Linked DNA regions of Homo sapiens: region 1 is linked to region 2. A link means that fine-mapping ties the variant in region 2 to the expression of a gene that starts in the linked region. Tissue or cell type: prefrontal cortex. Region 2 holds a variant in brackets; the other region holds the start of a gene. All regions are shown on one strand. Distances are between the middles of the regions.

The links. PIP is the estimated chance that this variant, and not a neighbour inherited with it, causes the effect.
Region 1: it holds the start of NOX4, and the variant in region 2 is fine-mapped to the expression of NOX4 in prefrontal cortex (CommonMind, PIP 0.95).

The regions. Positions count from the first base shown.
Region 1 is chr11:89,489,863-89,492,551 of GRCh38, forward strand. NOX4 (NADPH oxidase 4) reads right to left here and starts at 1,513. Exons shown (of 18, transcript NM_016931.5): 1 at 1,328-1,513; 2 at 596-691. The coding sequence starts at 1,384. RefSeq lists enhancers at 1,058-1,764, 1,765-2,471.
Region 2 is chr11:89,740,405-89,743,093 of GRCh38, forward strand. No RefSeq gene overlaps it. Among named protein-coding and RNA genes, the nearest start is that of TRIM77, 31 kb to the left of the region's middle. The variant T/C (reference allele first, on the strand shown) is at 1,299.

The sequences.
Region 1 (2,689 bases), 250 kb before region 2:
AAACATCATAGAAAAGAAAGAAAAATATTAACATAAAATAAATCAGAAAAAAGTTTTGCCCAGTATCTTTCTCATATTATAGTAGAATACTGGAATATCATCAGCCACTAACCCAAAGCAAGCACTGAGAACTGCCCAGAAATGAATAACCCCATTAGACCCATATTTTGTGAGAGTTGTCAGTAAAAACAAACAGTGCAGAAATCCTCTGGATAAGCTCATGAGCAGGCTAAAAGCACTGATAAGTATATACTAAAAGCTTGTTATTGGTTGATCCTCCTAGTGAATCAGATCCTTCAGGGTACTTAGCAGCTGGCAATAAGTAGCAATTTTTTTAAGGCACCAATAACCTGGTCTGGCAGGTTCATTCGTTTCACTTCAGCAGATATTACCTTTGGTTCTTGAGAGAGTCAATCTTTTTAACTTGTACAAGTGTAAATGATAAATCAGGAAAATGTGACCACTTTAGAGAACAACAAAGGTTTTCAAAGTGAAGAGTGCACATTTCTTTAATGAATGGAACTGACCAAACCTGTAGCAATGTCTGCCAGTGTTAAACCCATTCCACCAGATTATCCAAGTTCACCTTACTTACCCCCAACATCTGGTGGAGGTAGTGATACTCTGGCCCTTGGTTATACAGCAAGAAGGTTTTCCAGAAAAGCAGGACATTCATGGAGAGCCAGATGAACTAAACCAATCAGACATGAGAGACAGAAAACAAAAATTGAAAATAATTATTACCTGATGAATAGAAACCACAGGTAAATTCTTCGACACAGTGCTTTCAATGGAACCTAAATCAGTAACTGCAGAAAGCATTTTCAATTAACCAGCAAGCTGAAAACCACTCAGAGGAAAACAAATCTGACTTTACCCAGCCCTTTCACCTGAGACTAAGCATTTGGGTTGCAAATAGGTTTCCTAAATGATTTACAGCTATCCCCTGCCGTACAAAATGAGATTAAGAAATTAATGACATCACCATACCCCAAGCAAACAGAAGTAATCTGGGAAAAGAACAAAGGGAGCAAAAATGTTTAAAGGGTAAAAAGAAAAGCTGTATTCACGGAAAATGACCTCTTCCCTCTTCCTCCACATCTCTCCCATCAATGTGCAGAAAAATTCTCATGCATTTGGGGGACAGGCGAGGGGGTGGGAGGGGGAGTGTTCATTGTTATCTCCAGCATAAAGTTTTGTAAGTTGAGAATGTTCGAATTAAGACAAAACTTCCACTTCCAGCTTCCCACCCGTGCACGCTCAGAGAATGAATCAAAATCACTGCAGGACAGAGAGAACGCAAGGAGAGCCTAGCCCGCCATCCTACCAGGCAGAGGTGTTTAACCCCTTCGTTGGCGAGCCAGCTCCTCCAGGACACAGCCATGCCGCCGGCCCCGCCGCGCTGCGCTCTGTGCCCGCCGGACCGAGAAGGAGCGGGCGGCGGCCGGGGCAGCGGTTACAGTTGTGCGGCCTGCCGGGCCGCTGAGCGAGGACCGAGGGTCAAAGACTGAGTGGAAGCCCGAAGGCCCGGCGCCGAGCCAGCCCGGGCGGGGTCTGCTACCCAGAGCCGGGTTTTCCGGGCGCCCTGACTCCCACCCGCACCGGGTCAGCTCTGCCCACTCAGCTGCCCAGACGCCCAGCGCTCTGAGCGCGCGGCCCAGGCTGCACCAGTCTGCTCCGCCGCGCCGGCCCCTTTGTCTAGGGGCGAGCCTGTTGTTGTGGCTGCTGCTGTTCAGGATGTCCCGGGTGGGAACTTGGAGGCGTCCCCCGCAGCCTCTACCCAGGCCTGCCAGGCTCCAAAATACTGGCAAACATGTGAACAATGCTACTCATACTAAAAGTGGGGACCCTCGCCGCCCCCTTGTACACACACACACACACACACACACACACACACACACACAAGAAGACACAGCTCTTTTAGACTGATTGTTTTCCCCCAAAAAAGTTCATCTCAAAGAGCCTTGGTAACGAAATTTGAGCCGGAAACAGCCTTTTGTGTGCTAGTTCACGTTTCTCCCACCCTTCCTCAGCAAATTATCCCACTCCCAAACTAAAGCCCCCCTGACAGCCTTACCTAAGGCTTCCCACCAGCCGCCAGTTTCTTTATCCCCTTGCCCGCCCATCCCATACTGATAAAAAGGTTTTAAGACATTACTGAATAAGAAGAACCCAGGGAATTAATGGTTAAAGCTGATGTAATTCTTAGGGGCTCTAGGTTAGGTTCACTCTATTCGGGAATCTTTTTGTTTTAATACCTAGTCTGTTTGTAAGTAATAGGAATCCTCTCAATCTTGTACCAGAGGTCCAGTGAAGAGTGAGAAGTGTGTGGAGTTGACCCAGGTACCTATTCGACACTGCAACAAATCAGTATTAGAAAAGAGAGAGAAAAAAATGTCATTCATGTAGAAAAAAATCTGATGCAAAATAGATATCCAATAAAGGTTTGTTAAACCAATAACTTTTCTAGATTTAACAACTAATGAGAGACAGAAAAGTTTACTACTAGTTGCTTAATCGAATGGCTTTTAAACTCTTAAAATAAAAAATCTTACAACACAGGCCATAGGATATAATTAAAACTAAAATTTCAAAAAATACTACTACTCTCACTACATGCAATATACTTATTCCAATTAATTTAATGAACTGATTAATGATTGCAGTCCTCAGTTTTAAAAATCAAAAT
Region 2 (2,689 bases):
AAAGTTATTTTAAAAAATAAAATAAAACTTTCTCTCCTATTTTTCTTCTATCAACTTATATTTACCAGTTTTTCTTTCCTAGCCTGGCCCATTAATGCAGATATTACACAAGGCGTTTTATTTTAACCTGACCCCTCCACTGCCTCCTTGGCTCTTTCCTAATTACCTGAAATCTCCAGCTTTGGGGACAACTGGATCCCCTTTCATTACCCTGGATGGAGGCTGGTTTGGGTGGCCTCACAAGGCCCCAGTTGCCTTTACATATCTTGGTAGTGATTCAATTGTCTTTCTGGAAAATACTAATTTCAGTTCACTAATTTTAACCCATCTACTTTCTCTTGCAGATACAAAGAGAATGTGCAGGGAGAAAGCAGAGTTTTCTTTAATCCTGGAGCTGTGGATGATGGACAGAGAAGCTGACTGCTTTCTCTCTGCAAACTTTCTGAAAAAGCCCCGGTCCCTCCTCCCTGCAGTCCCTGCAGCCCCTCTCTTTACCCTCCCAAAACCTTTAGTGCTCATGATTTATCCAGCTCATGTAGGTACTATTCACAGTAACCAAAATCTCCCACCATTATTAACACAAAAGGAAAAGAGGATAAATCCATTCCCCACCCATACCCCTCTCAGAGCAAGACAGCCACCCCAAACATCCCTTAATCTCCAGAATTTTCCCACTAGTGATAATGAATAGTTAAGATCAACCCTTTGGGTGCATATTCCTAACCTCATTTCCCAAGTGTAACTGACTGATTTGAAACATTTTCTAAAGCCAAAAACTTGCACTTGAATTTGCAGATAATTTGCTGGATATACCTCGTGGTCCTCAGTACCATATCTGAGAGTAAATCACGCAGTAAAGTAATTAGCCATTGTGAAAAATGGGGGTGGTAGCTGCTTGTTATTAGGGATTCTATCAATTTGAGATCTCTCTCTCATATATGCATGTATAATGTACTATATATATAATAATGGAAGTAAACTACATATTAAGCAACATATAATGCATATATTCATGTACATGTATAATATGCATATATATTATACATAACTAAATACATAGATATATCGATATGTAGATAGATACCTACCTCTGCCTCTTCCTATTTCTCATTTTTTTTCTCACTGTGTCATCACTCTGTTGCTCAGGCTGAAGTTCAGTGCCGCTATCTCTATCACTGCAAATTCTGCCTCCCACGTTCAAGCTATTCTCATGCCTCCGCCTCCTGACTAGCTGAGAGTACAGGCATGTGTCAACACACCCTGCTGATTTTTGTATTTTTAGTAGAGAGGGGGTTTCA[T/C]CTTGTTGGCCAGGCTGGTCTCGAACTTCTTGCCTCAGGCAATCCGTCTGCCTAGGCCACCCAAAGTGCTGGGATTGTAGGTGTGAGCCACCACGCTGGCTTATAATACATTCTTGGGTGAGGTATTATGGGACAAGGGCAGGCAGAAAGGCTTTTAGGTGGGGGTTCGGGAGGGATATTGCAGGGACCAAGAGGGGTGCTTGGAGGAGGAGAGGATTAGGACATACTCCAGAAATTGACCTTCAGGAATAACTTGAGGTGGCCAGGCACAGTGATGGAGCTGGATCCAGTGAGGTGGGGCTGAGGTTCTGCTGGGAAGGAAACAAAGAGGACTGCCCAGAAGCACTTCTCTCAAGGTTGCAGCTGCAGAATATAAGCTCACTGTAGCCCTGGCACTAAGGTTCTTTTAAAAACACTAGACGTTACTTCATGAACAGTCATATCAAGGTATACTATTTTGGGAAAGGCACTTTCTTCCCTCTGCACTCTCCTTAAATAAGAAACAAACAACAACAAAAGCATGCCGTATTGATGCCATTTGTATGGAATTAAACTTGAACTTTTATAAGGTAAAGATCGGTCAAGATAGCTTTCCTAGCATCCTGAATCTAGAGCTCTCCTGTTGATTTTATAAGATATTCAATAATAAGACCTTTCACTTTTTGCTCTGTCCTGGTTCTGCTTCTGTCCCCACTTACTTTTTAGAGGCCTTCTCTTTTTTTGGCCCTATTGTGTCAGCCTTGTTTAATATGTAGTTTACTTACAGTAAATTCTTCTCAATACGGAACTTGATCCTGGAAGAGAATTTGGTCTGGTTATTTTAAGAGTTGTAGAAGCCATATGGTCCCAGCCTCTTTTTTATCTCATCCTGGACTCTTGCTTATTGATGTGTGCAAACTCCCACCCTACTTAGTTTCCGTAGCTGTTTTTTAATTGCCTTGCCCACTTTCTAATAAATCCTTGTTGCTGACTTGGGGGTTCTCAAATCCATAATATATTGTGTTCACCCTCTGCTTCATCTTGAAAGGATTCTGATTCCTCATGGATATTGCAGGTCTTCCTGATTTGTCTGTCACTATTTACACTGGGGATTTTTTGTAGGGCACATTGTTACCCTGTGTTGTTGTAAATATTGTTCATGAATTTTAATTTTGTTAACCTAGTTTTTCTCTGTTTTTCTTTAGAAGTTTGGAAATAGTCTGAAAGCACACTGTACCTCTCTATATTTTCAGAATTTTAAGGTGAAATTTTTAAAAATGTGTAAACAAGAAATGCCTCTAAACTGGATCTCAGTGTGTTTAGCAGTTTCCATGAGCTGTGTGTAACAGAAGACTGGAACAAAGAAATGTAGAAGTAGATTCTCCACAAGCATCATGGCCTTCTTCACTTTG